Regions from separate parts of the Homo sapiens genome. Here all the other regions are linked to region 2. The links come from fine-mapping of genetic effects on gene expression. A gene starts in region 2. Each other region holds a variant in brackets. All regions are shown on one strand. Distances are between the middles of the regions.

Region 1 (10,462 bases), 51 kb before region 2:
CAGGAGTTCCAGACCAGCCTGGGCAATATAGGGAAACCCTGTCTTTACAAAAAAAAATTTTAAAAATTACCCAGGTGTGGTGGTGTGCCTGTGTCCGGAGGCTGAGGCGGGAGGACCCCATGAGCCCAAGGGTTGGAGGCTGCAGTGAGCGCACTCCAGCTTGGGCAACAGATGACGGTGTTCAGAACAAGAACCTGCTACTCCTCTGTCACTTGGCGTGATGGTGATGGGCTACCTGGCCCTAGTGCAGGGCTTTTCCCATCTCACCCCTCAGGATCTGGGCCTCTGCCCCCACCTCCCATCCCGACAGACCACTGTCTCCAAGAGCAGAGCTTTAACTTCAGAATTTTAGTGTATGTACAAAAGTCCACAGCTCCAGCTGAAGGCCCCATTGTTCCGTGCTCGCCCCTGCCTTAGGACAGTTCAGCTTGCTATGTGCTTGTCCAGGCAGAGGGCACAGGAGTGCCAAGTTTCTATTAGTGTAACATGATTGATTTAAAAACAAAACAAAACAAAACAAAAACAAAAAAAACTGCTTATGCACTGTGAAAAAGGCTCAGGGACGAACCAGGGGCCCCCGAGCAGCCTTGCTGGTGAGGACACCCAAAACGGGCATGAGGCATAGCGTCCCTCATCCTCGCAAACCACCCACTCAGGCTCTTGAGCCCACGGCGCACCTCTCTCCGCGCGCACAGCGCTGACTGTCGGCGGCGCGCAGGCAGCTGAGAAAAGCTATGTACATCGAGGGGTTAGCACCAAGTAGGCGGCTGCTAGCTCCTGCTTGCCCCTGCAGGACCCCTCCTTTCCAGAAAAAAGTGGGGTTGGAAGGCGATCTCGCAGGACGGTCCTTAGAGCTGCCCGCAGGGGCGCAGCCTCATCTGAGAAGACTGGGCGCGGGCGGGAGGGCGGCGGGGCCGCAAAGCGCCTCCTCGATGTCCTCCAGGCAGCCCAGCAGGTCCATGTCGCGGAGCACGCGTCCCAGCAGCTCCAGCGTGGCCTCGCGCCGCGGCGTGCGCCGCCTCCAGGTCGCCAGCATGCTGTATTGCGCCTCGCGCAGGCAGCGCCCGTTCTGCAGCTCCAGCCGATCGATCTCGTGGTCGCTCAGCCCTAGGCGCCGCACGAATTCCTTCCAGCGCAACGGGGGCACGTTCTCCACCACGGCGTACAGCGTCGCGGGGTCATCAGCTGCGGGGACGCGGGCCGGTGAGCCTCGGGCGGCAACCCCAGGCCCCGCCCCGCATCCCGCGCCCTCCGCCTCTCGTGGTCCCCTCTGGGAGCGCCTCCCGCGCTCCCCCGGCCCTCCCCCAGCCTCCTCGTCTCCAGCCGCGGGAGAAACTCACTGTCTAGGCTCTGTGGCTTGTGGGCGCTGTCCTCCCACTTCTGAAGGGGGTTGGGGATGGGGTCGGAGGCGAGGGCTGTCGCAAGGATGGGGTCAGCCCCCTGATAGGGTGGTGCCACCTCTCTGCGGGGAGCCGCAAAGTTGGGACAGTCACCGGGGGTATAGGTGGAGCTGGAGGTGAAGGTGGAACTGGGCACGGGACTGAAGCCCAGGGTGGGGGTGAAGCCTGGAGTGGGACTGAAGCTTGGGTTTGGGGCCAGGGGCTTAGTAGTAGTTCCTTCAAGCTCCCCCTGAAAGAGAGAAGGTGGCGCAGCATTAGTGCGGCAGCGAAAACCAGCCCCGGCCCTCTTTATTCTACGTGGGGGTTGGGACTTAGAGGGAATGAGGCGAGCCCCCGGAAAGTGAAGGATGATTCCAGGGGATCTGAGCATTAGGCAATTATAAGGAATGGTCAGGGACATTTGGGAGTAACTCTCTCATTTCATCTCACCTCTTTTTCAGGTGTCGATTTCCCACAAACTGAGGAAAAAGAAAGAAAGCATCATAAATTTCACTTCCTCTCTCAGCCCTGGCACCCTGGACTCAGCTGGCAGTGGGGACTTGTGGTGACATGCCTCAGGGCCTATGTGGCCCCAGGGACGAGAGAGCTACTGATGCAGCTCGACATCTCCCCAGCCATCCAGGGCCACCTTCTGCCCAGAGTCCCCAGCGGTATGAACTGAGGGGACACTCCTCACCTCCCTCCACACATGTCCATCGCACCCACCCATGTCCTCCCTCACCCCCACCAGCTCCCTCTCCCTCCCAAAGCCCCCACTCACCAATGGAGTAGAGCTTGGACTTCCACCGTTGGTAGCGATACATTAAACCAATGAAGAGGAGGGATAAAAGGCAAAGACCAAAGAAAATGACCAGGGGCAACAGCACTGTGGTGCCTGCAGACAAAGCAGGTGTTGGTCAGAGGAGCGGGCAGAGGGGGGCCGCAGGGATAGATGGATGGGTGGGATGGATGGACGGGTGGGGGCAAGAAGAGGGAGAGGGCAGGTGAGCATGGGCACCAGGTCACTTCTCCTCACCTGAGTCCTCAGTGCCCTTAACATTCTCAATCTGGGGTAGGCACAACTTCGTGCACTCCAGGCTTTTCTTACAGCTAAAAGAAGAGACGGCACTGGTGAACAGAGGCCCTACCATTGGAGGAACACAGAAAAACAACCACACAGATTGTTGGACATCCTTTCTTTACAAATATTTTTGCTGTCTCTTGATATAATTTGTTTTGGGAACTGATGCAGAAGAATGAAACACAGTTAATCATAGAATCATTTAATTTTAGAATTGGCAGGGATCTTGAAAAGGCTGTGTAGAAAATGTGAAAAGCAGTCAGGGTCAGGGTGTAAATTCCAGTTCATTCCTTGGCTAGCAGTGTGAATCTAGGCAAGCCATTAACCCCCAAGCCTCGGTTTCCTCATCACCACAGGGATCGCCCACCTCTCAGGATTGAGGATTAAGCAAAATCATTATGCCTCATTTAATAAGTGCTTGAGAAGGTAGCCAGCTAGCTGTTATGGGATTGTTGTTTCATCACTGTTTTGCTGATAAGAATCCTTTGGCAAAGAGAGGTTAAAGGGCTTTTTCTTAAATGACACTGCTAGTTACAGTACCTGACTTCGGGGAGTCGGGGTCAAACATGCATGTGAAAAATTTAAAAACACATGTTACTGGGGCAGCCAGAGAGCACCCTGTAGAACTAGCAGATCTTCCATGTTGGGAGTTGTCACTGGACAGTGTGGAGTGATGGGAACTCTATGGGGTGGTGCTGGAAGGAACTTGAGAGAGTGAGTTCCCAGCAGGAAGCTGAAAGCAGGGAGAGGCACTTTAGCCCACCACTCAAGCTCATGGTGAGAACCACATAGAATGGTATAAAAGTGATTTCAAGAAGAGATGAAGCCGGCTGGGTGCAGTGGCTCACGGCTGTAATCCCAGCACTTTGGGAGGCAGAGGCAGGTGGATCACCAGGAGTTTGAGACCAGCCTGACCAAGATGGTGAAACCCCATCTCTACTAAAAATACAAAAATTAGCCAGGCATGGTGGCACGTGCCTGTAATCCCAGCTACTTGGGAGGCTGAAGCAGGAGAATTGCTTGAATCTGGGAGGCAGAGGTTGCAGTGAGCCGAGATCGCGCCACTGCATTCCAGCCTGGGCGACAGAGCAGGACTCTGTGTCAAAAAAAAAAAAAAAAAAAAAAAAGAAGATTAATGGAAAATAAATAGTTTTGTGTCAGACGTGTTGTAGGTTTTGTTTGTTTCTTTGTTTTTGGTTCTCACAAATTCACCAAATGAATGTCATTATGCTTACTTTAAATATAAGAAATCTAAGGCCCAGGCCAGGCGTGGTGGCTCATGCCCGTAATCCTAGCACTTTGGGAGGCTGAGGCGGAAGATCGCTTGAGCCCAGGAGTCCGAGGCCAGCCTGGGCAATATAGTAGGACCCTGTCTCTACAAAAAGTAAAACATTAGCTGGGTGTAGTGGTGTGTGCCTCTAATCCCAGCTACTCAGGAGGCTAAGGCAAGAGGATGGCTTGAGCCCTGGAGGTGGAGGCTGAGCCACGGTTGCACCACTGCACTCCAGCCTGGGTGACAGAGTGAAACCCTGTCTCAAAAAAAAAAAAAAAAAAAAAACACCAAAAGAAAAGTCAGGCTCAGAGATGTTAAGAAACTTGCCCAACGTCACATAGCCAGTAAGTGGCTATGCTGGGGTTCAAACTCTGAGAGCCCTCAGAGTTTATTCTTTGCAAGTGAGTGACAAGAACAGCCTCTGTGGAGCCAGGAGTAAGGAGGCCTGGACAGTGACTAATGAGGAAATACCATATTGCATCAAACCTAAGACGCCATCAAGAATAAAAGGCACTTTTCTTTACATTACTACCCAGACGCAAACAGAGCTGCCAATTCAACCATGATGAGTCACCAGTTATAGGAGGTTTGATTTCAGAGCTATAAGAGTGTATGTCCTAGAACCAATGAGCTATCGTAGATCCAAGAATCTACATATCTGAGTTGGAAGGGCTGCCAGCCCTTGGGGCATGATCTTCCATCCTCAAAGACTTCTTCAGATTTGAAGAGCAAGGGGAAGGACTGCCTGGTGTCTTAACGAAGTGTCTCCTACTCAGCCAGTAGGACCCTGAGCACTCTGGGGCATCCTGGCATCTGTTGCCCAGCTAATGGTTCCCACCAGTCACCCGTCCCAACCCATGCCACCATCCAGTGCCCAGCAGCTCTCAGAGATACTCACTTACTACAGGAGACACACTCGTTTTCTCTTAGAAAGAAACCTGCATGGCAGGTGCACACGGTGTTCTGTTTCTCCTGGCCTGTAGGGAGAAGTGCGGCACAGCTAAAGGAG[A/G]AGCGCCTGCACCCCCACCCCACAGGACAGAGGAAGTGACGAGGGACAGGGTGGGGGCGGCCAGAGAGGAGTTGGTTGTCAGACCCACAGAATACAGGAGGGGGAAGGAAAGGAAGTGCCACCGCATGGGGAAGGGGCCAACCCCTGGGGTGGGGAGAGGGCTTGGCCTCAGGAGAGCTGCGCTCACAGGAGAGGTGCACGGTCCCATTGAGGCAGAGGCTGCAATTGAAGCACTGGAAAAGGTTTTCACTCCAATAATGCCGGTACTGGTTCTTCCTGCAGCCACACACGGTGTCCCGGTCCACTGTGCAAGAAGAGATCTCCACCTGACCCATTTCTGGTGAGGGGAGAAGATGGGGTATGAGTCCTGCATCCTCCTGTCCCTGCATCCCCTTCCTGACATACCCCTAAGTGTGTGTCTCTGTAATACACACTCACATCCATGCAGTGTCCCACCAAAACACACACCTTCCTGCCCACACCCACCAGCCTGCACATAGACAGGCACCCACACACCACTCAAGACCCGCCTGACTCTCCTGCCTGTGCACACTCACCCTTTCGGCATTTGGAGCAGCTGAGGCAGTGTCTGAGGTGGTTTTCTGAAGCGGTGAAGGAGCCGCTCTCACACTCCCTGCAGTCCGTATCCTGCCCCGGGCCTGGACAGTCATTGTACAAGTAGGTTCCTGTGAATGGGGCCGCAGAGTTAGGCTGCGGGTGAGAACACAAGGAAGGAGCCCCATGCTAGGGACAACAGCCAGGGCCGATTCCCTGAAGTCTCTAGGAGAGGAGGGAGGGAGAAAATCCCAGCCCAGGAGAGACAGCAAAGTTAGGGAAGAACAACTGGAAGAAGCAGAGAAAGAAGCAGCACCCCAGACCTGAGGGCATTCACCGTTTCCACTTGCCCCTACCTTTGTGGCACTTGGTACAGCAAATCGAATTATTTTGAGGGTGGATATATTTTCCTTGGGGACACACACTATCTCTCTTCTCCCTGTCCCCTAGGTGAGGGACCAGTCCAATAACCCCTGAGGGGTATATTCCCACCAACAGCTCCAGGAGCACCTGGGGAAGAATCAGATAGAGGAGACACCATCAAGAGAGGGAGGGATGGGAAGCTTAGGGGTAGCAGATCTAAAACTTCCCTGGCTCAAGTCCTTCCTCAGTGAAACATTCCGCCCAGGCCACGCCACTCACTAAGTTTAGAGTTCTTCCTTGAAACTTAGACAGTTGGGGCCATACAATCTGATGCTTAATTGTTCTCTAGTTGTCCTGTGTGTTCATTTTTGTTCCCTCAACTCAAAGCTAGTAGGCCCCAGATCTAAGCTGTATTTTTTTTTTTTTAGGCAGGATCTTGCTCTGTTGTCCAGGCTGGAGTGCAGTGATGCAATCACTGCACCCTCCACCACCCACGCTCAAGCAGTCCTCCCACCTTAGCCTCCTGAATAGCTGGGACTACGGCCGTGAACCACCATGCCCAGCTAATTTTTTTTTATTTTTAGTAGAGGCAGGGTCTTGTTACGTTGCTCAGACTGGTCTCAAAATCCTGGGCTCAAGTGATCCTCCCACCTTGGCTTCCCAAAGTGCTAGGATTACAGGCGTGAGCCCAGCCCTGTATTTTATCCTTACTGTGAAATCCCCCACAGCAGCTAACAGTGCTGGACACAGGGCAGATGTTGAAAGGATGTGTTTTTGATTGGGAATTGGCAGGTTACTTCAGTGATGGCCCCTTCTTCCAACAAGCAGCCCTAAAGATTGGGGCGGTGTTTCTCCATCTGGGTGCTGGGTTCACCGTGTGATCGCTTTGCGAACATTCACAGAGGTAAACAATGAGGATCTATGCACATCCCAGGAATATGTTACACCATGAAAAGCTTTCTGAAAAAGTCAGCTGGCGGTGGGGGCGAGTGATGTTCCCGTGAGCACCACTCCTGGGGAGTGGACAGAAGAAGGAAGTTTATTTACATGTTTGTATCAAACCTCAATCTGCCTCCGCCCTCACATTCCCTGGCCCATCCCCTCCACCTCAAAATTTACAAACACCCGGGGTTGGCAAGGACAAATGGGGAGGAGAGTAAAAGGGAAAGGTTGGGGATCCTGCATGGGTAGACGGGGGACAAAGTTGAGACGGGGGCAGGAGTGGGCAAAGGTGTGCAGGACATAGGCAAATAGAGCTGGCCAAGGCTAGCGACCCAGCTTGGATGACTGTCAGGTCAGAGCTGAGGGCGTGCTGGGGAGTCCTGGAGCCCCCTGCACACCATGGCATTCTGGAAGGTGTGCTTTGCAGTCTCAGGCCAACCCCACAGCAGCTAAATGGCTTGTCCTGTTCCGGCATCAGTGCCAGGAAAGCAAAGCCAGGAGTGAATATTTAGCTCTAACTTGGACTTTGATCTCTGCCAGCTTCATTTCTGGTTTTCCCTGGGCTTCATTTTTTTTTTCTACTATAAGAGACACTTTGTGTAAAGATAAGAGGGTGTCCTCAATGTCTGTTAAACACTGGGGAGCAACTGACTCACCAGATCACAGAAACCCTAGGGCAGGGAAGGAGGGTCAGGCAGCCCACAGCCACCCAGCCTCACCAACTCCACATTTCGGAGCAGGAGGCCAGTCACCCTGAGTCAGCCACGGGGAGACGCTGCAGCTGTAAGCTGTGCAGGCCCGGAAGTTCAAGCCTCAGCCGCAAACAGGGGAAGCCACACACAGAAACACAACAGCAGCCCCCGCAGGTGGAGGCGTGTGCCCCTGCTCAGAGGACAACAACCTTCCCCTGCCCGCACCAGCCAACACCGTGCCACCTCTGCTGAGAACAGGACTGGGGCTTCCAGGGCAACAGGAAGGGTTTGGGGTGGTGATGGGAAGAACTTCCCAGTCCTGAAAGTGTGGTTCCTTTCCCCGAAGAAGCCACTGGAGCACCTAAGGTCACTGGTACTTTGAATCCCATCCAGGGGGCTTGAGGCAGAGTCATGATGAAGAACTGGGGGACGCCAGCCCCAGACAGCCTTAAAGGGAGCTTTTCAGGGACCTCTGGCCAGTGGGGGATGAGCCTCCCTGGAGGGAGGGAGGGAGAGAGGCTTTCTCAGGCCACGTGTTCCCTTCTCTTTCCAGCACTCTGGGGGTTAAGTCAGATCCGGGAAAGGGAAATCTTTTCCCAGCAACTCCGCCCCAGTGACTCAGGCCAGAGGGAGGGAGACCTAGGGAGGGGAGAGGGAACTAGCAGCTTCCCCAGCTCCTCAAGGGTCATGAGTCAGCAGAAAGGCAGAAGGCACCAGCCTGCATGCAAGTGGGACTCCATCTAATCCCTTCTTCCTATGGCCAAGTCCCTCCTTCCCATCCCCACTCAACCCCCATCCATCCCCTCCCCATGCAAAGAGCCAGGCCACAGACCCTTGTCCCACTTGGCCCACATGTTCCGGGAAATGCCTCCCTCTCCCCATTCCATCCCGAAGGGAAGTCTCCCTCGACCCTGGCTTCCGCCCATCAGGTCTGTGCCCTCCCTTCCCTGAGGGCCACTTGGCTCCTCCTAGCCCCTCAGCGGCCTTTAGCTGAGGCCCCGCCCCAGCTCCTCCTCCCAGTTCAACAAGTCTCCAACAGCTAAACCCATTCCGTGAGCTCTCACTCCATCCCCCAACACTCCCCAGTCCCAGCAGGAAGCAAGCCAAGGCTGCCCTCCCACCCTGGGTTCACCGCATTCCCACAGCCTGGCTGGTTCTGACCAGTTGTGCTGGGTTTGGGGGCCTCCCTGGGGTCCCCAGACAATCCTTAGGAAACAAGGCCAGTTCTGAGTCTCCACAGACCCTCCCCAAGCCCACTGGCAATACAGGAAAGCCTCCAGAGCCCTGAACACCCACTTCCAGGAACGAGGGAGCAGGCAAGAAGGGATGCCGGATGGAAGAACCAGCCCTGCTTCCTAGGCTTCCCCTGGCCCCCAGAATGCTCCAGGTCAGCCCTCTCTGATCCCTAGGAGCCAGGGCCCTCAGACTCCCCACCACTGGGCACCACTGCTGGCACCAGCTGGCCCCAGTAAGCCCAGTCCTCAGCAGTTGCGTAAATGAAGCAAAACAGGAGAAACAGGAGGTGAGCTCTTTAGGCCCAGACTCCAGCCTGGAGCAGAAGGGCAGGAAGCTGGGGTGCCTGTGGAGAGACAGTTGAGGGGGTGGCCCAACACCCCTCCAACTCCCCCACAATTTCCGCCAGAGGAGGCTTTAAAGTGTGACTTCCTGTGCTGGGGCTGCAGAGTGGGGAGGCGACGCTGAGATCGGCCTTGTGGTCTGACCCCGATCCAGCCACCTTGCAGGGACCCAATTAGTCTTCCTTTCCCCCTCATTCATGTGTCTGTTCATTTAATGTCAAGGTGTTGGGGGAGGTCGTGGCAGCTTCTCCTCCAAGGGCCCAGTTGAGATCCCATCTCCCTCCCGTGAAGCCACCATTGACGATGTCTGTTTCCTCCACCCCGGCTCCTTAGACCCATAGTCCCTGTGAACTCGAAGCACGTGAACTGACCCTATCTACTTTTGGCTCTTATCATAATATGGTTATGTTGGGTGACAGATATGATCTCCCCAAAGTGACCACGAACCTTATAAGATGAGAGATCAAAAAATGTCTTGGTCAGAAAGTGTCTTATCCTCCCCTGGTGTCCTCTCAGCTCCCAGAACCAGACCTCCAGACTGGGAGCAGATAAATATGGATCAACTGATCGATCTAATGATACATCTGTCTTCCACTCTAGTAGAAGCCAGTGATTCCCAAAGAGGGAGGTGAGGAGACAGCACCCCTGGTAGGAATATATTTATCTCCGGGGGAGAGTTTTCAGACCATCCCCCCACCTCCCCACACACAAGCACACACACCCTTACTTAAGAGTCTGGTGTGCTCCTCTCCTTTTGAGAACCACTGATGAGTGAACACAGTGTGTCTGAATGATACAAAGGCAGAAAGAAGTTGCAGCACCTCTCCTCCAGCTTGGTAGGCGCACCCTTCCACATGACCATTTCCCTGACCCTTAACATGCCCCAGACGGAATTCATCCATCTCCTCACCTAGACAAATGACACACCATCGACTTCCCGGACGAATGCTGAGAACTTGCCACGCTCTCTCCCCAGGGCCCCATCCCTATCCCTGCCGCCATCCCATGTGTCAGTTCATCTTGCGAGGCCTCCCCCTGTGATCTCTCGGTCCTCTCCGCATTCCTGGGTTGCCTCACACCTGGGTTATTGCAAGTGTCTTCTAGCCTCTCTCCTGCTCCCATCCGTCCTACACACTTTTTAAATCTTCATTCAGGCTTTAACTTGCACGCACAAGTGTGTGAACCTTCCTCTCCATCTCCAGGGCCTGGCTCCAAACAGCATTTCCATGGTCATGGAAATGATCTGAAGACTTCCACAGATGCCTCACTACTTTTTTTTTTTTTTTTTTGAAACAGGGTCTCACTCTGTCACCCAGGGTGAAGTGCAGTGGCACAATCATAGCTCACTGCAACCTTCACCACCAGGACGGAATGTAGTGGTGTGGTCAGGGCTCACTACAACCTCCACCTCCTGGGCCCAAGCCGTCCTCCCGAGCTCAGTCTCCCGAATAGCTGGGATGACAAGCACGCCCCACCATGCCCCGCTAATCTTTGTATTTTTTGTAGAGACAGGGTTTTGCTGTGTTGCCCAGGCTGGTCTCGAACTCCTGGACTCAAGCAATCCACACACCTCGGCCTCCTGAAGTGCTGG
Region 2 (8,000 bases):
TCCCTTTATCCTCCTGGGGATGGCTGGGCATTATAGTAGCCATTTATTGGTAAGATTTGTCTTTCGTGATCCAGCTGGGAAACAAGAAACACTCTAAGTCTTTCAAACAGAAGAAGTTTAACACAGAGAACTAACTGGTACATGGGTGATGGAGGAGCTGAGAAGACAATGGGAGGCAGCTCAGAAAACAGCAGAGCGGGAAGCAGCTACCATCTCTAGGCCTGGAAAGATGGCAGGGTGATGTAGCATCAAAGACCAAGAAGCCTCCAGAGCCATTTGGCAGGAACTAAATAGTGTGGACTACTGGTAGGAGATGGGATTATGGAAGTGGGGAAGGAAGGAAGACAACCAACTGCAGGTGAAGCCAGAAAGCAGAGAGGAGAGAAATAGCCTGGCTGCTTCACTCCTCCCATCCCACCTCCATCCCACAGACCTGCAAGCAAACCAGTAGCTGACTGACACAATAAAGAGGCACACAGAGATAAAGTGATGGGGCCAGGATCAAAACCCAGATCTCAGGGCTCGTTCCTTAGGGTGTAGAGAGTCCATGAGGGCTGAAGCGCCAGCTTACGGCTGGCAGCAGAAAGAAACATACAGTCCAGCCAGCTGGGGTTAAAAGGGGTCTGGACATAGTGGTTACCTGTGAAGCAGGAAGCTTTGACTGGGAAGGGCATGTAGCAAACATTTGTAGTGCAAGGAACATTCTGGGGCCGGGTGCCGTGGCTCACGCCTGTAATCCCAGCACTTTGGGAGGCCAAGGCGGGTGGATCACAACATCAGGAGTTCAAGACCAGCCTGGTCAACATGGCGAAACCCCATCTCTACTAAAAATACAAAAATCAGCCAGGCATGGTGGCAGGCGCCCGTAATCCCAGCTACTCGGGAGGTTGAGGCAGAGAATTGTTTGAACCTGGGAGGCAGAGGTTGTAGTGAGCCGAGATTGCACCACTGCACTCCAGCCTGGGCGACAAAGCGAGACTCTGTATGGAAAGGAAAAGAGAAAAGAAGAGAAGAGAAGAGGTGTTCTGGACCAGTTGGGGGATATGCAAGAATACACAAAAGTGAAGACTCTCTGAGCTGTATCTGTAAGATCAGTGTACCTTACGGTTTCATTGTATTATATGTTACACCTCTATTAAAAGAAAGGGTCTCAGCAGCATAAGACAGGGTGGGGAAAAAAAGAAAAATAGAATAGAGAAAGAGTCCCTGTCTTTTAGGGTAAAATCCTGAAATATTTTCAAATGAAATGATATGATGTCTGGGATTTACTTCAAAATAATAATGAGGGATTTGAAGAGTGTGTGCGTTGGTGGGGGAGGGGGTATACAGAATAAATGAAACTGACAGTGAGTTGAAGCTGGGTAAGGAGTATATGGGAGACTCCCAATATTACTTTTTCTCTTTTGGTATATTATCTTGCATGTGGAATTTCCACAGTAAAAAGTAAAAAGAAGAGAGAGAAAAAAGGACCTAGGGTCGCTACACACACATTCCTTTACGCGTTTAAGAGCTCAGCAGGGACTCTCATCCCAGCCCCCAGCGCTAGGGCCCTGGAAGGCTCAGCAGCCCCGCGCAGTGCATGCTGTTCTGATACTTCTGCCCTTTCCAGCCATCTTTGGCCCATCTGTACGGTGAGCTGCCTGCACCAGGTGAGGGGAGAGAGCCTCACAGAGTGAAATGCCTACAGCCTAGGCAGGTCCTTTCCCCCTTTTGTGACCTCTCCTCCCCATGCACACTTCCCATCACCTGCACCTGTCCAGACATCAGACCTGAAGTTAGACAGACCAGTGTAAGGACGAGTGCTGAACAGAGTCCTTCAGGGAGGGGGATAGTGCCCAAGTGACCTATCTCAAGAGAGGTTAGCCCCTCATCCCAAGGGAGACATCCCTGAGCCACAAGGAGTTGGCAGGACTGCTGGAATGAGTTGGGACCTAGACATCAGGAGACCCAGATTGTAGCTGGCTCTGCGGTGGACTGGCTCTGTGATGTGGCCATCACTCATTTATTCCATAAATACCTATTGGGCACATGGTATGTGCCAGACTCTGCTAAGCATGGGGAACACAGACTTGAAGATTCAGCCTGGGCCATGGTGGCACTCACAGCCTGGTGGGAAGCAAACAAGACAGCCAGGTACAGAGGGCAGTCTTCACGGGGACTGTGCAACCTAGGGCAGAGGTTGCCTTCCAGAGCCTCAGTGAAGCCTCAAGGACAGGTGGGAGTTAGGAAGACGGAAACTTGGGGACCAGAGAACCACGTGTAAAAGGGGGCAGCTGCAAGTAACTCCACGGGTGGGTGGGGTGTTGGGTTGAGGGAGATGGGAGGATGAAACAGGGCAGGAACGAGACCAGGCCACCCTGGAATCCCGGTTCCCTTATGTATCACCCTTAGCCTCCCTCTCCATGCTTAAGGTGAGGGGGCTGGACTGCGTGGGCTCTCAGCTTTCTCCAGTTCTAAGGGGTTTGAAGGTTCATGGGCAAAGAAGCCAGAGCAGAGGGACTGAGTGCCCAGGTCCAGCCTGCTGGCCCCAGGACTCCCCTCCGCATATCCTCCCCCTCTCTTTGGGAGGGAGGTTCCCTGAGGACAGGGAGCAGGGCAAGCTGCACAGCTCTCAAGGGTCTCCTAGGTGACCTGTGCCCACTCCTGTGCGGATTGGGCTGGGTTGGTAGCGTGGGGGGCTGGCTGATTTGCTAGTCCCTTGTAATTTGTCTGAAAAACTCCCACAGTAGGGCAGGACAACGGGGGAGGAACCCGGGCATCTGCCAGCCGGTTCTCCTCGGTCTCAGAGCTGCTTCTGCGGCCTTGCAGTCCCCGCGCCCTGCCCTCTCCATGACTGCCCGTCCTGGGCCCCTCGCTTTCCAGATCCCGCACCCAGCTGTCCCTTGCGCTCTCTGGAACTCCCTCTGCTCTCCCTGCGAGGCTTGTCCAAGGGCTGACCCCGGGCCCGCCGCCCTTCCCTCGGCTGGGCCAGGGCTGTCCGCAGTCCGCTCTCCCGATCGGGCTTCCGAAGAAGGGAGGAGGCCGGTTCCGGCCCCGCGGCCCTCACGTGCTTTCCCGGCCGCCCCTCCCGCCCCGCATCGAGGCAGACAAGCCTGTTCCTCTTCCCTGGGCTGCGATTGCGACAGGCCGGCCTGGCTCCCAGCGCTCCCTGTCCCCGCCCCGCGGCCAGCTCGCTCCACTCCCACTTCCTGAGCTCCGCCATGGGAGCCCTGGAGGCCCGGCCTGGCCGCTCCCGGCCCTGGGGTGCACATCGGCCCTGAGTCCCGTCCCAGGCTCTGGGCTCGGGCAGCCGCCGCCACCGCTGCCCAGGACGTCGGGCCTCCTGCCTTCCTCCCAGGCCCCCACGTTGCTGGCCGCCTGGCCGAGTGGCCGCCATGCTCCTGCCTTGGGCCACCTCTGCCCCCGGCCTGGCCTGGGGGCCTCTGGTGCTGGGCCTCTTCGGGCTCCTGGCAGCATCGCAGCCCCAGGCGGTGAGGAAGGGGCCTGGTAGGAGTGGGCGAGGGTGGGCAAGAGGGATCTGGGCAGCCGTCGCTCCATTCCCTCTGCCCTCCCAAGCTGACCCCTGACTAATTCTTCTCTCCTCTTCTCCATCTCCCTTTGAAGGTGCCTCCATATGCGTCGGAGAACCAGACCTGCAGGGACCAGGAAAAGGAATACTATGAGCCCCAGCACCGCATCTGCTGCTCCCGCTGCCCGCCAGGTGAGAGGCAATGGCAGGACGAACCTGGGCCTCGGAAGTGGGTCACGGGGGCTCCAGCCCCCTCGCGGCCTCAGAGGGAAGGTGGGCACTGTCCCCCAGGAAAACTGGCTGCTGGAGACGAGCGTGGGAAACCCTGGACATCACGTGGAGGAGATGGGACTGGCCCTCCCCACTGGGCCTCCTCTTTCCTTACCTCACTGAGAGGGAGCCGGAGGGCCACTGGCAGGATGATGGGGGGCCAGAGAGACCGAGGGAAAGGCCAGGGTCACACTACAGGCAGCGGAGGTGAGGGTGGAGCCTCGTCTCCTGAGGCTCTACTGCTCCACTCACGTTCTAGGCACCTATGTCTCAGCTAAATGTAGCCGCATCCGGGACACAGTTTGTGCCACATGTGCCGAGAATTCCTACAACGAGCACTGGAACTACCTGACCATCTGCCAGCTGTGCCGCCCCTGTGACCCAGGTGAGTGGGGATGTGCCTGCGGGGGGGCTGGATCCCCTGGAGCTTGGCCCCTCCCTGAGCCCTCCCGTCTCCCCGCCAGTGATGGGCCTCGAGGAGATTGCCCCCTGCACAAGCAAACGGAAGACCCAGTGCCGCTGCCAGCCGGGAATGTTCTGTGCTGCCTGGGCCCTCGAGTGTACACACTGCGAGCTACTTTCTGACTGCCCGCCTGGCACTGAAGCCGAGCTCAAAGGTCAGAGGTCCCTGAGGGGCTGGATGTGAAAAGGAGGCTGGGTGCCAGGGATCTCAAGTGGGAGCAGGGAATATGGTACTGTGTCCACGGCGACCCCCCAGATCCTTGGCTTAAAATTCCTCTTCTCATTCCATGCAGAGGCTCACAGAAGGGTTCTGGAGGGACATGGAACTGGGACAGGTGCAGGGGACACAGGAGGTGGTTCTTCTCAGTACTGGGAAGCTTGGGCAAAATGGTAGGCAGTAGGCCGGGTGTGGTGGCCCACGCCTGTAATCCCAGCACTTTGGGAGGCCGAGGTGGGCGGATCACGAGGTCAGGAGATCGAGACCATCCTGGCTAACACAGTGAAACCCCGTCTCTACTAAAAATACAAAAAATTAGCCGGGCGTGGTGGTGGGCGCCTGTATCCCAGCTACTCGGGAGGCTGAGGCAGGAGAATGGCGTGAACTTGGGAGGCGGAGCTTGCAGTGAGCCGAGATCGCGCCACTGCACTCCAGCCTGGGCGACAGAGCAAGACTCCGTCTCAAAAAAAAAAAAAAAAAAGGCAGCAAAGCAGAGCTTGGGAAAGGTGAGAGCTACGCAATGGGGTGGATGGGCATCCTGAGGCTTAAAGGAAACTCACAGGCCGGCAAAGGGCCCCTCCCTTTTGCCCATTCACCCTGGCTGGCCTGCCTTTCTCTTGCCAGATGAAGTTGGGAAGGGTAACAACCACTGCGTCCCCTGCAAGGCCGGGCACTTCCAGAATACCTCCTCCCCCAGCGCCCGCTGCCAGCCCCACACCAGGTGAGTGCAGCCCCACCCAAGCTCCTTCCACCCTCTGAGAAGCCTCAGCTGCTAACAACCCCCAGCGCCTATCCTTGACACCACGGACTCGACTCACCACTTTCAGCCTCCCCGCCTGCCCAGTGGAGTCGGGACACTGGTGGGCCAGGGCGTGAAAAGGTCATCATCTTTTTTTCCTCTGCAGGTGTGAGAACCAAGGTCTGGTGGAGGCAGCTCCAGGCACTGCCCAGTCCGACACAACCTGCAAAAATCCATTAGAGCCACTGCCCCCAGAGATGTCAGGTGAGGGACCAGGGCTGAGGGACACGGGGGGGGCGCCTCTGAAAATGCCTTAATGCTCCACATCTTAAAAAAAATGGGGAAAAGATGAACACTTCCCTCCCAGAATTGGGCAAGAAGAAAGTTCCTTACAGAAAAAATTGGAGTATCTCTAGGCTAGTTTACACACACACACACACACACACACACACACACTTTTAAAATTATATATACTGTAATACTATGTCAAGGAACACATCCCACACTGAGATGTAATGATAACTACTATTGTCATCATTTTGGGCTTACCAACATTACACAATCCGTTTTTTTTTTTCACACAATCCATTAACTAGACCAAACACCTCTTTATTAGACTATATACTTTTATTATTAGACAGAAGATTCCCATTTGACTCTTTCTTGACTGTTTCCTGTGGACTGATTGGCTTGCTAGCCTAGTAGATGACTATTGTTTCTAATGACTGTAACATCACTAATTGGCAGAAGGTTCACTGTGTGTGTTGGGCACTCTGTAACCACTTTACATTTACTAACTCATTTAATCTTCTTAATGATGCTATGAAGTAGATTCTATTATCATCCTCATGGACTGAAGGAAGAAACCGAGGCTCAAAGAGGTTAAGTGATATACTCAAGATCACCCACACAGGTGGTCACTGGTGTTATTAGAACCTGTACTCAGGTTTTCTTACTCCAGAGCCCATGTCATAATGCATGCACTATAGAAAATTAGAGACTTCAGATAAGCAAAACTAAAAACTCACCCACAGAGCCACTACCTAGAATATCCACTCGTTACATTGTGGTATATATCCTCCCGGACATTTTCTATGCATGTTTATACATACTGGGTTTTGTTGTTGTTTACTAAAAGTGAAGTAATTTTAATATTTCGTAACCTGATTTTTTCATTCCACAATCTAAGTATTTTTCTGTGCCCTGTTAATTTTTAACTATGTATCAAATACAACTGGCATTTTAGAGCTGGAATTTTAGAGAGTATGTAAGCTAACCTCATCCTATATATGAAAAACTGATGCCCAAAGAAGTGAAATGACTTAAAAGTCACACAGCCGGGCAGGAAACCGTGGCCCAGACTCCCAGTCCAGTTTCTCCCCAGGCCTCCCATCCCATATTCCCTTAGGCTACAGATTTACATGAATGAGAAGAGGCAAAATGCCCAGCATAGAAATGCGGGAGTCCTCCCGCCCTTCCCCAGGCGTAGCTGACGGACACTGGAGGCTCCATGCTATTGCTGGCAGCACTGGTACCCAGAGAAAGAGAAATTACCCACTGCTACAGATCACAGCTGGAGAAGCCGAACTCCAGCCTCTCTTTCTCTTCCCCTCCTAGAACCTGCCCTGAGCAAGGGGGTGGAGAACTTGCAAGCCCTGCTCTACCAGGCGGCCACAGGCAGTTCCGAAGCAAGTTTCCCTACTCTCTCACCCCTGTAAACACCCCCACAGGTACAGGTACAGCAGGGCAACCCTAGCTCCTCTACAGCAGCCCCTCTGTACAATGGCTGAGGCCACAGAAATGTGGCTCTAGCCTGTGTCTGTTTACAACTCCAAGTCCCACCCTTCCCTACTGTCTCCCAATCCCACTTCCAGACCTTGAAAATCAACTGCCTAAGCTCCCATCCTGCACACACAAGCCTGCCCAATCCTGGTCTCTGAGCAGGAGGGCACCCACACCACCCCCAAACATGCCCATCCATGATACAGTCTCTCCTGGCTGCCAAGAGGTCCTCAAGTCCAACTTAGTTCCCCTTCTCTATAACCCAAGGGAAGTTTCTCTCATTCTGCCTTTAGGAGCTGCATTGTGTCTAGAAGGAAAAAAGCTGCTCCCTTTTCTCTGTCTGGGTTGCCCAGGGATCTGGAAAGCTCTTCCTTCTCCTCCTCCCCTCTGCCCTTCTTGGGGCTGTGATCACCCTCCTGTCTGCTGTCCTGGCAGGAACCATGCTGATGCTGGCCGTTCTGCTGCCACTGGCCTTCTTTCTGCTCCTTGCCACCGTCTTCTCCTGCATCTGGAAGAGCCACCCTTCTCTCTGCAGGAAACTGGGTAGGAAAGGGTTGGATGCAGTGGATGGTTGGCAATGGGAGCCGGAGGGAGGAATATTCAACTTCCCCGGTGCAACCCTCCACACCCTCAAGACTCCCAATGCCTACCCCCAACATAGACATCCTTATCTTCATCCAGCTGCTTATTCTGAGGCTGGAGATGAGAGTGACAGTGGCTTGTTCCTCTGGGCCCCCGGGTGGTCAAGTTGCTACACATTGTGCTGGGATGTGGAGGCTGAAAGGCTAGGTCTGAGGCCTGCCGGGGAGCCTACACCCATTTCATTCTCCATTGCAGGATCGCTGCTCAAGAGGCGTCCGCAGGTAATGGCGGGGGCTGAGAAGGCAGCAAGAAGGGGAAGAGGTGATGAGGGTACAAGGTGGAGCAGACAGGAAGAGAGTATGCAGGCTGACTCCACACTCATTCATTCATTCAACTGATGATTTACTGAACATGCCACGTACCAGGCACTGTCCTAGGCA
Region 3 (10,462 bases), 21 kb after region 2:
AAATTCCTCCCTGAGGAAATTTAAGATACAACCTGAAGAATAAATAAGGGCTAGCCAAATTGAAGGGGTGTTGGAGAGGAGAGCTCTGCTGGTGGGTTAAATGGTACGTGCAAAGGCCCTGTGATAGGAAGAATAGTTTGGCTGGAACTTGGGAATAGAGAGATGAAGCTAGAGAAGTAGGCGGGTAACACGTCATTCAGACTTACAGACTACAGCAATTTTGAACTTTACCCTAAGAGCAATAGGAAACCAGTAAAATTTTTTTCCAGTGTAGTAAAGTATATATATATAAATATATATGTTATATGTGTGTGTGTGTGTATATATACACACATACATATAAAATATGTGTATATAGTGTATATATACACACATATATATAAAATATGTGTGTGTGTGTGTGTGTGTGTGTGTGTATATATATTTTTTTTTTCACTCTGTTGCCCAGGCTGAAGTGCAGTGGCATAATCTCGGCTCACTGCAACCTCTGCCTCCCAGGTTCAAGAGATTCTCCTGTCTCAGCTTCCCTAGTAGCTGGGACTACAGGCGTGCACCACCACACCTGGCTAATTTTTGTATTATTAGTAGTGATGGGGTTTCACCATGTTGGCCAGGCTGGTCTCGAACTCCTGACCTCAAGTGATCCACCTGCCTTGGCCTCCCAAAGTACTTGGATTACAGTCATGAGCCACTTCACCCGGCCTGTAAAGTATATAAAGTATATTAATCTTAAGTGTATAGCCTGAAGAAGTGTTACATAGGTATATACCCATGTTACCATCACAGAAGATATGCAACATTTTACTTCCTTAGAAGATAACTTCATGCCACTTTCCACTCAGTCATGCTTACTGCTTGAGTTCCAGTTTATATTCTGGCAGACATATGACATCCCAGAGATATCCACTTTCCTATTTTGACTTATATCCCCATCAGTTAGTATTTGTTTGTTTGTTTGTTTTTAAGATGGAGTCTCCCTCTTGTCGCTCAGGCTGGAGTGCAGCGGTGCTATCCTGGCTCACTGCAACCTCTGCCTCCCAGGTTCAAGCGATTCTCCTGCCTCAGCCTCCCGAGTAGCTGGGATTACAGGCGCCCACTCACCTGGCTAATTTTTGTATTTTTAGTAGCGACGGGGTTTCGCCATGTTGGCCAAGCTGGCCTTGAACTCCTGGCCTCAAGCCATCTGCCCATTTCGGCCTCCCGAAGTGCTGGGATTACAGACATGAACCATCACGCCTGGCTCATTTGGGTTTTTTTTCTTAATGAGTTTTTAGTTTGGAAAAATTTTAGAATTACAGAAAAGTTGCAAAGATAGTACAGAGGGTTTTGGTATACCTTTCACCCAGCTGCCCTTAATGTTAATATCTCACATAGCCATGATACATTTGTCAAAACTAATTAAGAAATTAACATATCAACTAAACTACAGATTTTATTTAGATTTCACCAGTTTTTTTCCTTAAATCCTTTTTCTGTTCCAGAATCCAATCCAGGATACCACATTGCACTTAGTGATTATGATCCCTTAATATTTAGTCTTCTCTGATCTGTGACAGTTTCTGTCTTTCCTTATGCTGAGACAGGCAGATCGCTTAAGTCCACAAGCTCGAGACTAGCCTAGGCAACATGGCTAAACCCTGTCTCACAAAAAAAAATACAAAAATTAGCCTGGTGTGCTGATGTGTGCTTCTAGTCCCACCTACTTGAGGGGCTGAGGTGAAAGGATTTCTAGAGCCCGGGAGGTCGAGGCTGCAGTGAGATGTGATCCCACCCTGCACTCCAGCCTGGGAGACAGAGCGAGACTGTCTCACAAAGTGAAAAAAAAAAAGAAAAGAAAAAGGAAAAAGCAACTGCCAACCTGTCTCCAAAGTGACTATATCATTTTGCATTCCCAAAAGCAATGAATGAGAGTTCCTGTTGCACATCTTCACCCGCATTTGGTGATGGTGGCAGTGTTTTAGAAATTCTAGTAAGACCAGCATTTGGTGATGGTGGCAGTGTTTTAGAAATTCTAGTAAGACCAGCATTTGGTGGTTGGTGGCAGTTTTAGAAATTCTAGTAAGACCAGCATTTGGTGGTTGGTGGCAGTGTTTTAGAAATTCTAGTAGGACCAGCATTTGGTGATGGTGGCAGTGTTTTTTTTTATTTTTTATTTTTATTTATTTTATTTATTTATTTTTTTGAGACGGAGTCTTGCTCTGTCACCCAGGCTGGAGTGCAGTGGCGCGATCTCGGCTCACTGCAAGCTCCGCCTCCCGGGTTCACGCCATTCTCCTGCCTCAGCCTCCTGAGTAGCTGGGACTATAGGCGCCCATCACCACACCCAGCTAATTTTTTTTATTTTTAATAGAGGTGGGGTTTAACCATGTTAGCCAGGATGGTCTCAATCTCCTGACCTCGTGATGATGGTGGCAGTGTTTTAGAAATTCTGGTAAGACCAGTATTTGGTGGTTGGTGGCAGTGTTTTAGAAATTGTAGTAAGACCAGCATTTGGTGGTTGGTGGCAGTGTTTTAGAAATTGTAGCACGACTAGCATTTGGTGGTTGGTGGCAGTGTGTTAGAAATTCTAGTAAGACCAGCATTTGGTGGTTGGTGGCAGTGTTTTAGAAATTCTAGTAAGACCAGCATTTGGTGGTTGGTGGCAGTGTTTTAGAAATTGTAGTAGGTGAGCAGTGGTACCTCATTGTGGTTTTAATTTTCATTTCTCTAATGACAAATGCTGTTAACCAACTTTCATATGCTTATTTGCCATCCAGGTATTTTATTTTCTGAAGTGTCTCTTTAGATATTTTGCTTGTTATTAAATTGGATCATTCGGCAGTGTGCAGTGGCTCACGCCTATAATCTCAGCACTTTGGAAGCCCTAGGCGGCTGAATCGCTTGAGGTCAGGAGTTCGAGACCAGTGTGACCAACATGGCGAAACCCCATCTCTACTAAAAATACAAACATTAGGCCGGGCATGGTGGCTCACGCCTGTAATCCCAGCACTTTGGGAGGCCGAGGTGGGCGGATCATCTGAGGTCAGGAGTTCAAGACCAGCCTGACCAACATGGAGAAAGCCCGTCTCTACTAAAAATACAAAATTAACCGGGCATGGTGGAGCATGCTTGTAATCCCAGCTACTCGGGAGGCTGAGGCAGGAGAATCACTTTAACCGGGGAGGCACATGTTGTGGTGAGCCGAGATCGTGCCATTGCAATCCAGCCTTGGCAACAAGAGCAAAACTCCATCTCAAAAAAAAAAAAAAAAACGCAAAATACAAAAATTAGCCAGGTGTGGTGGCACGTGCCTGTAATAATCCCAGCTACTCAGGAGGCTGAGGCAGGAGAATCGCTTGAACACGGGAGGCAGAGGTTGCCGTAAGCCAAGATCACGCCACTGCACTCCAGCTTGGGTGACAGAGTGAGATTCTGTCTCAAAAAAAAAAAAAAAGAAAGAAAGAAAGAAAGAAAAAGAAGAATTATTTATTCTGGATAGAAGTCCTTTATCAGATACATTATTTGCAAATATTTTCTCCCAGGCTGTGGATTGTCTATTCATTTTCTCAACCTATCTTTCACAGAACAAAAGTTTTTATTTGTGATAAGGTACAATTCATCATTTTTTTCTTTATGAATTGTGTTTCCAGTACCAGAAAACTTATCACCAAACCTAAGGTTACACACACACAGGGTCTCCTGTGCTTTTTTCTAGATGTCTTACTTTCTACATTTAAGTTTATGAGCCATTTTTTGGTGTAAGTGTGAGGTACGTGTTGAGGTTTTTTGGTTTTGTTTTTACATATGAATGTCTAATTTTTCCAGCACTGTTTGTTGAAAAGACTGTTCTTTCACCACTGGATTGCCTTTGCATCTTTGTCAAAAATCAGTTGACATTATTTGTGTGGGTTTATTTCTGGTCTCTCTATTGGCTCTATTCACCTAAGTTGTCTACTCTTTCGCTAATACCACACTAATTGCTTTCTAATAAGTCTAATAAGTGGTAGAGTAATTTCTCCTACTATTTTTTTAGTTCCTTTTCATTTCTTTCCCTTTTCATATAAATTTTAGAATCAGTTTGTCAATTTCTATCAAAAAAAAGCTTCCTATGATTTTGATTGATAATGCATTGAATCTATAGATCAAACTGGGGAGAATTAACATATTTACAATATTGAATTTTCTAATCTATGAATACAGTATATCTTTCTATTTATTTATACCTTTTTTTTTTTTTTTTTGAGGCGAGGTATCACTCTGTCACCCAGACTAGAGTGCAGGCTAGAGTGCAGTGGTGCAATCATAGCTCACTGCAACCTTGAACTCCTGTGCTCAAGTGATCTTCCCACCTCAGTCTCCTAAGTAGCCGAGAGTACAGGCACATGCCACCATGCCTGAGTAATTTTTTATTTTGTGTAGAGACTGCGTCTTTCTGTGTCGTCCAAGCTGGTCTCGAACTTCTGGCCTCAAGTGATCCCCCTGCCTCAACCTCCCAAAGCACTGGGATTACAGGTGCACCCAGCCCACACCCAGCCCACACCCAGCCCCCACCCAGCCTACACCTAATCATTTATTTATATCTTTGTTGATTTCCTTTTTCTTTTCTTTTTTTTAATTTAGCCAGCTTTTTTTAAATTTTAACTTTTTTTTGGAGGGGAAAGGGAGTGGTCATGGACATACTGAAGTAGACACAAAAATATAGAGAATACTGCACTTCCCAGGGCTCGTCACACGTGCTTCAAAAATTACCAACAACTTGCCATTTTGTTTCATTATCTGCACCCACAATGGTGGATGAGGGAGTCTAAAAAATATCCCAAACATGAAATCTCAAAAATGTGATTTTAATCATGAATATTTTCACAAACATCCTAACAGATATGAATATAGAGAAAATACACTAAGATTTCACACCTAAGAAAATTTTAAAAATGACTTATAACATTATCCAATACCTAGCCCTTAAAGAAAGGAAATCCTGAATTGTCTGAAATATTTTTTATACTGATTTTGTCTGAATGAGGTCCCACCAGCTCCAAATATGGCATCTGATGGCTGTTCCTCTTAAATCTATTATAATCCATAAATTTACCCAAGTCTCCAAGTAGCCTGTCTGCTCTTTGAAAAAGGAATTGAGAGACCATAATCTGAGTGAAAATTCTCACTGATCATGGATTGTCATTGCTTTTAAACCATTCTTTGAAAAGTATTGCAGAAAAAAATGTTTTGTTTTCTTTTTTTTTGAGACAGAGTCTCACTCTGTCTCCCAGGCTGGAGTGCAATGGCGCAATCTCGGCTCACTGCATCCTCCACCTCCCAGATTCAAGCAATTCTCCTGCCCCAGCCTCCCGAGTAGCTGGGACTACAGGCGCGCTCCACCACGCCCTGCTAATTTTTGTATTTTTAGTAAAGACCGGGTTTCACCATGTTGGCCAGGCTGGTCTCAAACTCCTGACCTCCTGTGATCCGCCTGCCTCAGCCTGCCAAAGTGCTGGGATTACAGGCGTGAGCCAC[C/A]GCGCCCGGCCAAAGGTGTGTTTTTTATGAGAGTATTTTTAAAAACATTCAAATTGTCGGTCACAGCTCCTTGCCTATGCGCCTAAAAAGAGATAGCCCAAGACAGACGGGGGAAAGAAAAGGGGAGACAGAAACAAAAAGAAAACTGGCAAACAGAGGAGAAGTCCAAAAGCCCAACTCCCATAAGTCAAGACTTCCCACAGTTCTCTAAGTCAGCAAATGAATGTAATTTAAACTGCTTTAAACGTCATACAAAAATAAATCCTTTTTAGTAAATCGATAAACAGAGGCATCTCCGTGACGACTGGTGGCAGCATGTACTCCTCCTTTTCTAAAACAAGGAGTTCTAAAACAACTCAAGGCAGCAGAGAGCCCTGAGTTGCAAACATGAAAAGCATAACTTTCTCGAGTTGGCTGTTAAGTGTAATAGGAGAGGCACCACTCCACTCCTACCTCTCCTTTCTTTAACCAATGCATTTTGGCTACAGAAGAAATTATGCCTATTCTTAGTCACTATTAAGCACATATACAATGTCGAAAATTGAACAGTACTCCAAGAGGGTGCAAAATGACTACATGCCACTTTAACTGAGGCTTCCAAAAATTGAGATTTCTACTTATAAGGAATGTGGTACACATTAGAACTACTGAGTCCCATGGTCATCCATGCATTACCTTACCCTTTTTGTATAACTTATAGAAATGGGTCCAAAAAGACGTTGTGAGATATGAGGTATGAAGTGTTCAGTAAGTTCATTGATGGTCCTGCTAGCAATAGCATGTAAGTGAAGCATATCCAAATCTAGAGTAAGTGTTTATCTCAGTGAAGACAAATCCCTGCCCCATCCATGACAAAATACTTGCAAGAATACAAGAATACTTCCCCTGACATATGGGACACTTAGCAGCATCAGCATCCAGAGGTCAGCCTTGGTGAGCTAAGTCTATACTATAGAGCTCAAGTATAACCTCTACCACTGCCTGCCACCCTAGTCACATTTTTTTTTTTTTTTTTTGAGATAGAGTCTCACTCCGTCACCCAGGCTGGAGTGCAATGGCGTGATCTCAGCTCACTACAACCTCCACCTCCCAGGTTCAAGTGATTCTCCTGCCTCAGCCTCCCGAGTAGCTGGGATTGCAGTCACCCGCCACCAGGCCCGGCTAATATTTGTATTCTTAGTAGAGATGGGGTTTCACCATGTTGGCCAGGCTGGTCTCAAACTCCTGACCTCAGATGATCCACCCACCTCGGCCTCCCAAAGTGCTGGCATTATAGGCGTGAGCCACCACGCTGGCCACATTGTTTACAAATAAATCACTTGGGCAGTAAGTGGGGTGATACGAAGAGACTACATGACAGCCATATGGTTGATGTGTACCTGATTGCTGATAGCCTCCTCTGAAGAGTGGGAATTTCGATTAGCATTCACGTGGGACATTATTCTCATATTCTGGGACCGTTCTGGGAAATTCATCCACATCACTGTTTCCTGAAACTTCTTGTCAACACAACCTTCACTTTTGCCCACTTAAAATCTCTGTCTATCCACACCATTAGCCATGCACATTCAGTTTAGATCAGTGTCTTAGGTCACGCTCCTTCCAGAAAAAGTAAACAATGACATTCAATACTCCAAATACTGCTGAGTGGCAGCAATTCTTTCCCTATTGCCAATTATGGACATATTTGACTGGGGTAATATTATTACGGCTTCTAATACTACTGTTACAATTGGCTTCAGTAGTATTAGCCAACATATGTTGAATGCTTACTATGTACAGGACAGTGTTCTAAGCATACTAAAACTATTCGCTCATGAGAGGCACGATTACCTCTCCATTTTTAAAATGAGGGGAAAAGCCAGAGGAAAATAAGAAGAAAAAAGAAAAAAGCCAATTTGTCTGGAACTGGTTAGTAATGGGCTGAACTTGTAGCATTCAGTTTTTCTTTTCTTTCTTTCTCTTTTATTTATTTATTTATTTATTTATTTATTTATTTATTTCTTGAGACGGAATCTCCATCGCCCAGGCTGGAGTGCAGTGGTGCAGTCTTGGCTCACCGCCTCCTCCGCCTCCTGGGGTCAAGCAATTCTCTTGCTTCAGCCTCCCAAGTAGCTGGGATTACAGGCGTGTGCCAACACACTGGGCTAATTTTTGTATTTTTAGTAGAGACGGGGTTTCACCATGTTGGCCAGACTGGTCTTGAACTCCTGACCGCAAGTGATCCGCCCGCCTCGGCCTCCCAAAGTGCTGGGATTACAGGCAGGAGCCACCATGCCCGGCCCCATGTTGATTTCTTTCGTCAGTATTTTGTAGTTTTTAGCACACATATCTCCCACGTATTTTGTTATATTTATACCTAAAAACTTCATGGGGGCTGCTATTGTAAATGGTATTCTATAAACTACAGTACGTTGTTTCTTTGTATAGATCCAAGATTTTGATTATATTTCTTCTTCTTCTTTCTTTTTTGAGACGAAGTTTCACTCTGTTCAACCCAGGCTGACACAATCTCGGCTCCCTGCGACCTCCGCCTCCCGGGTTCAAGCAATTCTCCTGCCTCAGCCACTTGAGTAGCTGGGACTACAGGCGCCCACCACCACGCCCAGATAATTTTTGTGTTTTTAGTAGAGACAGGGTTTCACCATGTTGGCCAGGCTGGTCTCAAACTCCTGACCTCAAGTGATCACCCGCCTTGGCCCCCCAAAGTGCTGGGATTACAGGCGTGAGCCACCACACCCAGCCTCTTCTTCTTAGAGAACTTGCTTTGACATTTATTATAAAGTAGGTCTGCTGGCAATCAACTTCCTCAGTTTCTGTTTGTCTGATAAACTTTTAATTTTGGCCTGGTGTAGTTGCTAATGCTTGTAATCCCAGCATTTTGGGAGGCTGAGGTGGGAGGATCACTGGAGTCCAGGAGTTTCAGACCATCCTGGGAAACGTAGTGAGACCCCGTCTCTAAAAAAATAAAAATAAAAATAGAAAACTCTTAATTTGGGCCAGGCACAGTGGCTCACGCCTGTAATCCTAGCACTTTGGGAGGCCAAGGTTGGTGGATCACCTGAAGTCAGGAGTTTGAGACTAGCCTGGCCAACATGGCGAAAACCCGTCTCTACTAAAAATACAAAAATTAGCTGGGTATGATGGCAGGCACCTAGCTGAGGCAGGAGAATCACTTGAACCCGGGAGGCGGAGGTTGCAGTGAGCCAAGATCATGCCACTGCACTCCAGCCTGAGTGATGGAGCGAGACTCCATCTCAAAAAAAAAAAAAAAAAAGATATTACTCCATTTCATTTTGCTTTTATTGTTTCTGACTAGCAGTCTGCTGTAATTCTTATCCTCGCTCCTCGGTAAGATATTATGTTTTTTCCCCCTTGGCTGACTTCCAGATTTTCTTTCTCTTTGGTTTTCAGCAGTTTTAATATGATATGCCTAGATGCATGGGTTTGGTGAGGGGCTGTGTTGTTTTGGTATTTATCCTGCTTGGTGTTCTCTGAGCTTCCTTGATCTGTGCTTTTCTGTCTGTTACTAATTTTGGATAATTCTAAGCCATTATCTCTTCAAATGTTTCTCCTGTCTTATTCTTTTTGTTCGTTTGTTTGTTTGTTTAACTAAGTCTGATTAGACAAATCCTGTCCAAGTCTTTCTTCTCCTTCTGGAATTCCAATTATGGGCATGTTAACTCATTTGGTATTCTTGGATGGTGTCTTCTTTCTTTCTTTTTTGTTGTTGTTCTGTTTTGTTTTTTACCCACTCTTTTTTTGCACTTCAGTTTGGGTAATTCCTCTTTATTTTTTTGCAATTTTATAACTTTATTTGATGTATTTGACTATCAGCGATTAGTTCTCATCCACATTGACTGTCTGTAGATTTTTGAAAGTGGTAGCAAATACATAGGTAACCAAAGTATAGAGCTTATTTGTGAATCTTCATCCTCATTACGTTTTCTGGACAGCCGCACATGGATTCGGTGTCGGACATTCCTTATTCCTTTGGCCCAGACAGCTTTGTTGAGCCTGGTATCAATGCGCACATCTGGAGTTTCCATCTCCTTCATGGCAAATTTCCGAATCTCTTTGAGTGCCCGAGGGGCACGCTTCTTGAAGCCTACTCCACAAATGCGCTTGTGAATGTTGATGGTGTATTCTCGGGTCACCACTTCGTTGATGGCAGAACGGCCCTTTTTCTTCTCGCCACCCTTCTTTGTGGGAGCCATTCTGCCATGTCCAAGTTGGAAAGGGAGTTTGGGAAATTTCTATTGACCTCTACACCCAAGGTCACTGATTCTTTTCTCAGCTATACTGAGTCTACTGATGAACCAGTCAAAGGTGTTCTTCATTTCTGTCACCACGATTTTATTTCAAGCATTTCCATTTTATTCTTATGGTTTCCTCTGCTGAATTTATCCATCTTCTTTTGGCATGTTGTCTACCTTTTCCATTAAATCCTTTAACATAATCATGTTACTTTAAATTCCATGTCTGATGTCATATCTGAGTCTGGTTCTGATTTTTTTTTTTTGTCTTTTTAGATTGTGTCTTTTTCTTTTTTTTGAAACGGAGTATTGCTCTGTCACCCAGGTTGGAGTGCAGTGGCATGATCTCTGTTCATTGCAACCTCTGCTTCCTGGGTTCAAGCAATTCTCCTGCCTCAGCCTCCCCAGTAGCTGGGTTGACAGGCATGCGCTACCATGCCTAGCTAATTTTTGTATTTGTAGAGAGGGGTTTCACCATACTGGCCAGGCTGATCTTGAACTCCTGACCTCGTCATCCGCCTGCCTTGGCCTCCCTAAGTACTGAGACTACAGGTGTGAGCCACCATGCCCAGTCCAGATTGTGTTTTTTCTTTCCTTTTTGTATACCTTGTGGTTTTCATTGAAAGCTGGATATGCTGTATAACACAACAGATACTGACATAAATATTTTGTATTCTTGAAGATAAGCATTCATTTCTTTCTGCTACTTCTCT

Evidence for each region.
Region 1: its variant is fine-mapped to the expression of LTBR in whole blood (TOPMed, PIP above 0.99).
Region 3: its variant is fine-mapped to the expression of LTBR in whole blood (INTERVAL, PIP 0.99).

Annotation. Positions count from the first base shown.
Region 1 is chr12:6,328,438-6,338,899 of GRCh38, forward strand. It overlaps TNFRSF1A (TNF receptor superfamily member 1A), which reads right to left. Exons shown (of 10, transcript NM_001065.4): 2 at 5,654-5,807; 3 at 5,300-5,428; 4 at 4,930-5,079; 5 at 4,632-4,710; 6 at 2,416-2,489; 7 at 2,161-2,274; 8 at 1,830-1,858; 9 at 1,341-1,629; 10 at 334-1,185. The coding sequence ends at 875. It overlaps PLEKHG6 (pleckstrin homology and RhoGEF domain containing G6), which reads left to right. Exons shown (of 16, transcript NM_001384598.1): 16 at 1-69. Among named protein-coding and RNA genes, the nearest start is that of TNFRSF1A, 8.4 kb to the right of the region's middle. RefSeq lists enhancers at 1,801-1,930, 5,885-6,755, 8,498-9,367, 8,684-8,773, 8,766-9,060 and 1 more. The variant A/G (reference allele first, on the strand shown) is at 4,743.
Region 2 is chr12:6,380,985-6,388,984 of GRCh38, forward strand. It overlaps LTBR (lymphotoxin beta receptor), which reads left to right and starts at 3,178. Exons shown (of 10, transcript NM_002342.3): 1 at 3,178-3,470; 2 at 3,604-3,700; 3 at 4,038-4,163; 4 at 4,243-4,395; 5 at 5,082-5,178; 6 at 5,363-5,460; 7 at 7,414-7,521; 8 at 7,816-7,841. The coding sequence starts at 3,375. RefSeq lists an enhancer at 2,231-3,096.
Region 3 is chr12:6,400,304-6,410,765 of GRCh38, forward strand. It overlaps the pseudogene RPL31P10. Among named protein-coding and RNA genes, the nearest start is that of LTBR, 21 kb to the left of the region's middle. The variant C/A (reference allele first, on the strand shown) is at 5,494.